Linked DNA regions of Homo sapiens: region 2 is linked to region 1. Evidence: fine-mapped expression QTL. A gene starts in region 1. The other region holds a variant in brackets. All regions are shown on one strand. Distances are between the middles of the regions. Region 1 holds the start of CAPN1 (calpain 1). Region 2 has its middle 12 kb from the start of SYVN1.

Region 1 (5,369 bases):
GCTGGGGTGAACACTCTGTGGTTCCCGACCCCACGCTGCAGGCTAATCAATTTGTATGCCATTTCTCCTACTAACCTCCTTTTGTGAGTTGATTTTTCAGTGAACCTTCAGAGGGCTAAGGGGATGCTTTCCTTTGCCTGTACAATGTATACTAGATACCTGCATATTTGCTGTATACTAATACATGCATACCACATATAGACATGTGTATACTTGATATGTACATGTATGCTCGAGACATACTAGCTACATGATCCTGGAAAAGTTATCGCCTCTGAGCCTCAGTTTCCCTATCCATAAAAAGGAGCAGCGGTGCCTTCTTCACGGAAGACTTAAACAAGAGCACAGGCAAAGCCTTTAGGGAGTCACTGAACAAACAGGGTTCCTCCTCAGGCACGGAGAGGTGGAAAAGCTCTGGGGCCTGGGCTTTCCGGAACTAGCCCCCTTTTAGGCCATGGCCCCCTGGCTCTTCCCTCCCTATTCAAGGGGGTTAGGGGCACCTGTGTCATTGGATGAGCAGTGAAAATGTGGCATCCAGATCCTACAACCACAAGATGGGCAGGACTGGTTCTCACAATCACGGGCTTTGTTTCTGAGATGCCACAAAGGCCACGTTTCCCAGGGCAGGGTCGGGGCCGAAGGCGTCTGGGGTCAGAAGCGACCAAGGACTCGAGGTACCATCTGAGGGGTCGGGGCCAGGACAACGGGGGGCGGGGCGGGGTGGAGGCGGCCCTAGGAGCCCAGGTTGCGGAGAGTGTGGGTGGCGGGTACTGAACTGGCCAATCGGAGGCCAGGGAGGAGCGGATTGGAGGAGCGAGGGAAGGGGGCGAGACTGCGCCCCTGCAGACTGGAGCAGGTGGGTGTGGCGCTGGGCCAAAGTGGATCCGCACTGTGGGTTCCGCACCCTGGGTTCCGAGGGCCACCTCCACCCGCGCAAGGCGGGCAAGGACAGAGTAGGGTAAGGGGCTCTCTAACCAGGCAGAAGGAGGGAACACCCAAGAGTCCTTCGGGCAGGGCTGGGGCCTCCAAGGCTGGAGAGTCTCATCCAGGGTTGCTGGGCATGTCCCTCCCAAAGGCAGCTCATTGAGAATTGATTGGTGTGACTTGAAAAATGGGCCCTGGGCACACCGTCAGGAAAAGCTGGTTTACGTAGACTTAATCCCGAGTCTTTCTTTTCTGCTGGGCTCAGTCAGACCTTGCCAAAGCGCAGGAGGAGTTGGGGGATAGGAGGCTTGACACGTGGAGAAGGCCACACGTGCTGATCTGTTTTCCCCAGCGAACACTCCTTTCTCAGATGGGGCAACTGAGACCGACCTCCGGGAGGAGTGGAATTTGTCCCACAGGATATAACACAAAAGTCTTTCTGTTCTTTCAAGCACTTTCCACCTGATACATACAACCACCTAGGAAAACTGCCAGCCGAAATACCTGCCCAGCCCAGTCACTTCACACATGACAGACCCGAGATGGCACTGAGAGGTCAAATACCTGCTAGAGGGAGGGCTGGCCCCACAGGGTGTGGCCCTAACTGCAGGTATTGTGGGTCATCCTTCCGCATCTCCCCCAGTGCCTGCTGCCCCTCCTCCCCAGGGGAGCCCTCACCTGGAAATGGAAGATGCCGGCATAGCCATTCTGGAAGCTCTGGCCGTGCGGAACCACTCGGTGCAGGAGGGTGTCGTTGAGAGTGAGGGAGGCGATGGCCGCCAAGAGCCAGCAGTCCCCTGGGGCAGGAGGGATGCACATTAGCCTGCTCTACCAACCTGCCCCGGGGGGGGAAGCGGGTGCTAGGGAGAATCTGGGGTTCCTTGGCCAGGGTGCCACTTAACTCCCCTCAGCTTGCAGAAAAGACCCAGGAATCTGGGCAAACCAGCCCCAGCGCTGATAGCCAGATCCTGCCTGGGCTTGCAAGAGGGAGGGGTTGGGGCAGAGCCTGAAGGAGCGGGAATGGGGAACTACTGTGGAAAAAATACCCGGGACCCGACGCCCTGGGGGCCTACCCAGTGCTCCCTGGCAGATGTCTGTGCGGGTAGCTCCATCCACAATGAACTGGGGGTTTGACAGCAGTTCCTACGAGAGACCCAGAGTCCTGTTCCTCGGCCAGCCCCTCCCAGAAATTGGCACCAGGCCACCCCAGACCCCATTCCCCACCAGGGACATGGAGTCCCATCCCTACTCCTCATCCAGGATCTGGCTTAGCCGAGTCCCACCCAGGATGGCCCCTCTCACCGTGGGACGCTTCCACTTGATGCCATAGGTCTTGGAGGAATTGGGACCCAGGTCCTTGTAACCCAGGCTCTGGGGTACCGGGGGGAAGGCCTCATCACGGAAGAGGGTCCCACTCTGCAGGCATCGCACCCGCAGCTGCTCATAATCCTGGCCCAGGTACTTGATGGCATTCTCATGGCGGCCCAGGCCCAGCTCCCTGGCCCGCTGCTTCTGCACTTGGGCTGACACCCCAGTGCAGTACACCGGCGTGATGATCTCCTCCGACATCCTGCCGGACAGATGGGCCTGCTCAGAACCCAGGCCTTCCCAAGACTAGAACCTGGGCTCCTGCCTGCAAGCTCTGCTCTCCTGCCCCTGCTTATCCATCCCCAAACCTAGGGTTTCCCTGCCTCACTGCTCCCCTCACAGAAGTAGGGTTCTCAGCCACCTCCCGGTGCTCCCAGTGAATCCAGGAAAGGGATTTCCCAGTTCCCAGGCGTGCCGGCCACCTCTCCTTTCCCGGATCCCATTGTCAGGGGCTTGCAGCTCTGTAGTGAGCCAGCAGGTCAGGTGGGGCAGGGCGGAGCCTCCAGACAGCACAAGGAACTGGGCAGGTGGGACACAGCAGGGAAGGCCTCTTTGATCCTGTTCACAGGCCTGCAACCCCCTCCCCAAACTAACCAAGCTCCTGGTGCACCGGCCCCTTGCCGTGGGCTGAAAACCCCAGACGGTCGGGGTCCCCCTCCTCAGGCCCCCGCAGCAGGCTCGATATCAGAGCTGGTGGGCCCTAGCCCAGCCCCTGGGGACAGCGGTGAGCCAGGCTGGGACAGGCGCCTGGGCTGTGCCGCTCCGCCAGCCCCCACCCCTGCTCCAGGAACGCAGAGGCCCCCGAGAAGGGACCGTGCTGGGGCAGCCCCTCAGCCCAGGAGCAGTGGCCAGGGTCAAGGAATCCCGGCTCGGCTACCCAGCTTCTTACCTGGGGGAGGGGTGTTTGGGGGTCGCTGCAGTCCCTGAGGCTGGCTTCCCGGTGGCAGCTCAGGGCAGGGCCCAACCAGGAAGAGCGCTCCTCCCCGCCCTCCTCCCGCCGCCCCTCCGCCCTCCGCCCTCCCTCTCTCCTTCTCCTCCTCCTCCTCCTGGGGCTCCTACCCCGCTTCCTCTCGGCTCTCCCTTATCTCTCCGGCACGGTCTCTGACTATCTCTTACTCACGGTGTCTCCCCGCCCCTCCCTCCGCAGGCCGGGGGCCAATTCCGCGAGAGGACAAATTAGTAAAAGGCAGAGCAGTCCCCGGGGAGGGGCCAGCGCGGGGGGGGATGGGGGGGCTGGGGCGCGGCGGAAGGGCACCGCGGGGAACGGAGGGGGAGGGCCGGGCAGGGGGTATTTTTAACCAGGGGCAGCAGCTCGAGTTGCAGGGCCGGACGGCCGCACCCCACGCGCGCCCTGGCGGGCATTCCGGGGCGATTGTGCGGCGGCGCCGCCTCCCGCAGCCCCGGGCCCGCCCGGTCCCCAGCTCCCCTCGCTCCGCGCGACCGCAGCTGCTCCCGCCGTTCCCAGCCAGCCCCGGCGCGGGGCCGAGATTACCTCGGGCTGCGGCAGCTGCTCTGAGGAGGGGCCGGGCTGGCAGCGAGCAGACCCCTGCCGGACACTCAGCAAACGGCAGCCTCACCCCGCAGGGCCGCGCCACTCCCCTTCCCCACCCCACCGCCGCGTCCCGGCTCAGCGCTCCCCGGGGAACGCAGGGGGACCGGGCTCGCTGCGTGACCTTGGGTAAGTCCCTGCCCCGTTCGGCCCGACTTTCCGCATGCGTGCATCCTATGGGATGGGGTTGGGCAATTGTGGGAGCCCATCTTTCTCTAACGTTCTGGGGTTTCTTGAACCTGGAAACTTAGAGAGGTGGACATCCCTGTTCTCTCCCCCAGGCTCTCAGCCCACCCACCTGGAAGCGCCCATGTGTCACCTTACCCAGGAGAGGGCGGCAGAGGCTGCGAGCAGGACGGCAGCCCCCTCTCCCCACCCCCAGGACCCTGAGATCCTGCTTCACGGGCTGCAAGAAGTTGGGGGGCCAGGATTCGGCGCGGAGGCCGGGGGTGTGGGTGGGGAGACTGCAGAGACTCCCGAGACCCCCCCAAGTCAGGGCTTTTCGCTGGTCTCGCAGCCCCAGCCCAGCAGCTGCTGCAGTCTTGCATGTTGTGGATGCAAGCATTTTGCTGAGGAAACTGCATAGCGTTCCCAGGACTCTAGGGCCCACGACCCCTCAAAAGTTAAGAGCCGCTGATCTAATCTAACCCCACTTTCACCCTCAGTTAACAAAAGAGGAAAACTGAGGCCTGAGAGGGTGTGACTTGCCTGAAATACCTAACCTGGTGAGTGATGGGTGGAACCAGCTCCTAGGCTTTCTGCGCAGGTGTCCAGGGACAGAGAAGGGTGGTTTAAACTAGAGAGGTGGCAGGCAGAAGTAGATGGATTTGATAACTATTTAGGATACACCATCAAAATTTAACTCAAACTGGATTACACACCTAAATATAAATGGCCAAACCATAAAACTTTTTTTTTTAAAAATGGAGACAATCTTAACAATATTGGGTTTGAAAAGATTTCTTTTTTCTTTTCTAAAGGCAGGGTCTTGCTTTCATTGACCAGGCAGGAGTGCAGTGCCCTGATCACAGCTCACTGTAACTTTAAACTCCTGGGCTCAAGAGATCCTCTCACCTCAGCCTCCTGAGTAGCTGAGACTACAGGCACGTGCCACGACACACAGCTAATTTTTAAATTTTTTGTAGAAATGGGGTCCTGCTGTGTTACTCAGGCTGGTCATGAACTCCTGGGCTCAAGCAGTCCTCCTGCCTGAGCCTCCCAAAGTGCTGGGATTACAGGTGTGAGCTTTGGCACCTGGCCAGATTTCTTAAATATGACACAAAAAGTGTAAATGATAGAAGAAATCAATAAATTGAACTTCATCAAAATAAAACGCTTTTGTTTCTCAAAATGCACGAAACTATTAAAAATGAAAAGATAAGCCATAGACTAGGACGAATATTTGTAAAAATTCTATCTGATGTAGGACTTGTATAAAGAACTTTTACAATTGAATAAAAATCCAATAAAAATGGACAAAACATTTGTTTGTTTTCTGGTGTTTGTTTTTGTTTTTGAGATGGAGTCC
Region 2 (5,369 bases), 36 kb after region 1:
GGTTAGGAGGCAGGCTGGAAGCATATCATGCAGAAATCCAAATGCCCCCTTAGAAAGGCCTTTGTCAGATTAGCAAGCTCACACTTGTCACTGAGCATCTGTCTCAGCCTTCTCCCAGCTGGCTGCCTGGACCACAGAGGCTGGAACGGTAAAAAAAAAAAAAAAAAAAAAAAAAAAAAAAAAAAAAAAACCACACAAAACTTGAGTTACATATATTCCTTCTGGTTTTTTTTTTTTTTTTAAAAGACTGAGTTTCACTCTTGCTCCCCAGGCTGGGGTGCAGTGGTGTGATCTCGGCTCACTGCAATCTCTGTCTCCTGGGTTCAAGTGATTCTCCTGCCTCAGCCCCCCAAGTAGCTGGGATTACAGGCATGTGCCACCATGCCTGGCTAGTTTTTTATTTTTAGTAAAGATGGGGTTTCTTCATGTTGGTCAGGCTGGTCTTGAACTCCCGACTTCAGGTGATCCGCCCCCTTGGCCTCCCAAAGTGCAGGGATTATAGGTGAGAGCAACCGCACCCAGCCTCCTTCCACAGTTTCAATCATGTGAGACTTACATTTGGAACTAAGTGGAGTCGAGGGAGACAGGTAGCAGCCCTCGGGCACTCCTTCTGCTGGTGTGGTTCCAGCAGGGATAGTAAGGCTGGGCCCACTGCACTGTGGAGCTTTCCAGATTCTGGGCTTGCAGTTAGTGTCTCACCTGAGCAGCTGAGTATGCACTGCCTGTGACAATGCCACTCCAAGTAGATCTGCCAGGGACCCTTCCCAGGAAATTATTTATAACAATTCCAGCAGAGATGGCTTCTCATCCTCCTTGAAGCTACTGGACTCTGAGCCCCTGATTCTGCCACAGCTCATCACTCTAGACCTGTCAGGCTTAACACAATTCACTTATCCAACCATTCAATCATCCATCATCCACTTAGCCAATCCAGTCTTTTTTTTTTTTTTTTTTTTTTTTTTTTTTTTTTTTTTTTTTTTTTTTTGAGACAGAGTCTAACTCTGTCAGCCAGGCTGGAGTGCAGTGGCGCTATCTTGGCTCACTGCAACCTCGACTTCCTGGGTTCAAGTGATTCTTCTGCCTCAGCCTCCTGAGTAGCTGGGATTACAGGCACGCATCACCATACCTGGCTAATTTTTATATTTCTAGTAGATATGGGGTTTCATCCTGTTGGCCAGGCTGGTCTTGAACTCCTGACCTCACTCAGATGATCCACCTGCCTCGGCCTCCCAAAGTGCTGGGATTACAGGCGTGAGCCACCACGCTCAGCCCAATCATTTGTTGACTCACTTCTTCAACACTCCCTGAGTTCTTATTCTGTGGCAGGCCCTGGGTCTGGGGCCAAGAACAGGGAGTCAAATTAGATTAGGGCTGTGAAACAAGCCACTCTCAAACCTAGAGGCTTATGACAATACCAATCATTTATTTTCTTACCATTATGCAATTTGGGCAAGGCCTGGTTGAGACAGCTCTTCTTGTGCCTCCAGCTCCATCCTTGGAGCTGGAGGACCCTTCAAAGATGGTGCACTCCAATGGCTGGCAAGTTGATGCTGGCTAGAGCTATTTATTTATTTATTTATTTATTTATTTATTTATTTATTTAAATTCCCCCAGCCAATTGGATGGTAGGGCTAGAGCTTTTTATTCCCTATTTTTTTCATTTTTAAACTTTATCTCCCTTTAGGGGTACACTGTTCCTGGAGGTACTGCAATGCTAGGTAAATGTGTGGAGTGGGTGGGGCAAGCTCCTATTCCATCTCTTAGTTCCAAAAATCTATTTAATATAGATTGTGTCCTCGAATAGAGGACATATCAGATATTAAACTGATAAGAACAGATACTACACTTGATCTTACCCAAAAGGCTGAGAATGGAGCTTTGATTCTCCTCTACATGGGCCTCCCCACAGGACTGCTTGGGCTTCCTCACAGCATGGTGGCTGAATTCCAAGAGAAGAAAACAGAAGCTGCCAGTTCTGTTTTAAAGGGTAAGCCCAGAATTGGGCACAGCTTCATTTCCACCATATTCTACTGGTTCAAAGCAAGTCATAGGCCAAGTCCAGAATTAAGGGGGTGGAGAAGTAAACCCCACCTTTCCATGAGGGACGGGATAAGGAATTTATGAGCATTTATAATCCACAAACCTAACTAGGAGTGCAGTTTCATGCTGCTTGGATTGAGGAATTGACTGGTTGGATAACTGACTGGGTTTGATTAACACAAACTAAGGATTATTTCTCATTATATCTGTTTCCACATGGTGGACCTTTTCTGGAGTAACTAACACTGCAGAAAAGTGGCCTTGTCCCACTTTCTCTCACTCACCCCTCCCAAGAAGTAGAAAAGAGAGTTTTCTTGGTGAAGTTGTTAGAAGCAACTATGTATGGGACCCAAAGTGAGGTAGGAGGCAGGTCTCAATTCTGGAGGTGGGGCTGGGACACCAGACCAAATTGAGGACTTGCTAAAACAGGGATGGGGTGGAGGCAGCTTTCCATAAGACACACCCACCAGTGTGCCATGTCAGTTTACCATTGCCATGGTAACACCTGGAAGTTACTGCCTCTTTCTGTGTTAATGACCAAACGACTCAGAAGTTACCACCTTATTTTTAGAAATTTCTGCATAATCTTCTCCTTAATTTGCATATAATTAAAAGTGGGTATAAATATGACTGCAGAACTACCTCTGAGCTGCTACTCGGGGTAGCCCTGGTGTGCAAGGAACAGTACATCTGCTGCTGCTGTGCACTGCCACTTCACTAAAAGTGTCTGTCTAACAGCACTGGCTCACCCTGGAATTATTTCCTGGACAAAGCCAAGAACCCTCCCGGGCTAAGCCCCAATTTGGGGGCTTGCCTACCCTACATCAAAAGAAGGAGAAACCTTTGGGAGCAGAGTGGGTAAGTCTGTGCAGCTCTGGGACGGGTACAGGGACTTCAAATGCATTTTCTCAACAACTCTATTGGTTACAGAAGTAACATTTTTATCTCTATCCTATGTGTCTGTTTTTCAGATGGTACTAAACTTGGTCAGGGAAAGACAGGGTGTTACATTGTATGCCCTGTAAAAACCCTTGCTCTAAATCTGTCACATACTTGGCACTCAAGAAAAACATGTTAAATGTTAACTAAAAGAATGTTGACATCAGGTGTGAGAGGTTTTCTTCTTCTTCCTTTTTTTTTTTTT[G/TG]AGATGGAGTCTCGCTCTGTCGCCCAGGCTGGAGTGCAATGGTGCAATCTCGGCTCACTGCAACCTCCACATCCTGGGTTCAAGCTATTCTCCTGCTTCAGCCTGCCAAGTAGCTGGGACTACAGGCCGGCACCACCATGCCCAGCTAATTTTTGTATTTTTAGTGGAGACGGGGTTTCACCATGTTGGCCAGGGTGGTCTCGATCTCCTGACCTCGTGATCCGCCCGCTTCAGCCTCCCAAAGTGCTGGGATTACAGGAATGAGCCACCGCGCCCAGCCGGGAGATTCTTCAAGCAGTCATTATATCAACAGACACAGATGTTTCCCTTTCTTCATATGACGAAGCTCAGGGATCCAAACTTATTCGTAAAGCTAAAGAGACACCATTGGTACCCGTTGGAATAGCAGGTTTTGCAGCACTTGTTACATATGGATTATACAAATTGAAGAGCAGGGGAAATACGCAAATGTCCCTTCATCTGATCCACATGCGTGTGGCAGCCCAAGGCTTTGTTGTAGGAGCAATGACTATTGGTATGGGCTATTCCATGTATCGAGAATTCTGGGCAAAACCTAAGCCCTAGAAGAAGAGATGCTGTCTTGGTCTTGTTGGAGGAGCTTGCTTTAGTTAGACATCTCATTATTGAAGTTATGTGTTATTGTGGAAAATAAACTATTTGAGTGGGTTTAGATGGTAACACAGCATTTTGAATATTGGCTTCCTTTCTTGCAGGCTTGATTTGCCTGGTGACTTAATTACTAGTGACTAGTTTACTAACTAGGTCATTCAAGGAAATCAAGTTAGCATAAAAGAAACATGTCACCTAAATGCACTAGATGGTGTTGAAATGTCCACCTTCTTCAATTGTGAAGATGAACTTAAGTTCTAAAGGATATAACAAGCCAACCCTGAAGTACTCCCAGTTTGCTGCAGGATCTCACATGTTTCGGATGTTATATAAGAGTCCTATTTGCCCTAGTTAATTTAACTTTTTTTCTGCCTGTCTTGTGGACTGGCTGGCTCTTTCAGAACTCTGTCTAAAAAGTGCATGGAATAAAACTTGTAAAGCTTCCCACAACTGACAGTATCTATGTGTGTGTGTTTAAACCAAATCTAGAAAGCTTACATTATAGCTGCATAGTAGTGGTATTTATTAAAGAATCACAGTTGTGAACATGAGAATAACTTATGGATTCTAGTTTAGTTATTTTGTAATTGCAGAATTATATTTTTGCTGCTGTTATATCTGAATAATTTTTAAATGTCATCTTGAGATAGAAATATGTATTTAAGCACTCATGCAAAGGTAAATGAGCACCTTTTATTTTATTTTTTTTGAGACGGAGTCACGCTCTGTCACCAGGCTGGAGTGCAGTGGTGTGATCTCAGCTCACTGCAACCTCCATCTCCCGGGTTCAAGCACTTCTCCTGTCTCAGCCTCCTGAGTAGCTGGGACTACAGGTGCACACCACCATCCTTGGCTAATTTTTATATTTTTAATAAAGACAGGGTTTCGCCATGTTGTCCAGGATGGTCTCGATCTTGACCTCGTGATCCGCTGGGCCTCAGCCACTCAAAGTGCTGGGATTACGGGCATGAGCTACCGTGCCCAGCCCAATGAGCACTTTTTAAATGTGTGCATTGCTTATTTTTTCCATAAGAATTACAAACATTAAACTAATCAAATTACCTATAATGGAATTGATTAATGACTTATGAGCAAGCTGGTTTGGCCAGACAGTATACCCAAACTTTTATAAACTATAGAATGTTATTACATTTGTGAAATTTTCTTGTCTAACCTGAATTTACATTTCATGGTGATAACATGGTATATGTACTGTTGTTAAAGTAAGTGACCATCTCAAAAAAAAAAAAAAAAAAGAACGTCAACATCAATTCTGACAGGACAGGAATTTGGACAATGTAGCTTTTACTCATTCATTCTTCCACTAATGCATTCATTCAGCAGACAGTCAAATAACCTGCAATTAGCTTGTGGATCTCTCTACCATGAGACTGAAAGCTCCATGAGGTCAGGGAATGTATTTTGTTCTCCACAATGTCCTCAGAACCTGGCCTGGGGCCTGAACACAGTAGGCCCTCAGTAAATGTTTGTTAATTAAAGGAATGAGATCAGAGGCAAGGGAAGTCCAAAGGCAGTCTAGATAGACCAACAAACT

The links. PIP is the estimated chance that this variant, and not a neighbour inherited with it, causes the effect.
Region 2: its variant is fine-mapped to the expression of CAPN1 in whole blood (INTERVAL, PIP above 0.99).

What each region holds. Positions count from the first base shown.
Region 1 is chr11:65,179,826-65,185,194 of GRCh38, reverse strand. CAPN1 (calpain 1) reads right to left here and starts at 3,267. Exons shown (of 22, transcript NM_005186.4): 1 at 3,182-3,267; 2 at 2,227-2,494; 3 at 1,998-2,067; 4 at 1,603-1,721. The coding sequence starts at 2,493. CAPN1-AS1 (CAPN1 antisense RNA 1) reads left to right here and starts at 3,361. Exons shown (of 2, transcript NR_145677.1): 1 at 3,361-3,970; 2 at 4,123-5,324. RefSeq lists enhancers at 1-28, 1,212-2,001, 2,002-2,790, 2,791-3,580 and silencers at 2,603-2,897, 3,499-3,948.
Region 2 is chr11:65,144,091-65,149,459 of GRCh38, reverse strand. It overlaps the pseudogene HIGD1AP10 and the pseudogene RNU2-23P. Among named protein-coding and RNA genes, the nearest start is that of SYVN1, 12 kb to the right of the region's middle. The variant G/TG (reference allele first, on the strand shown) is at 3,185.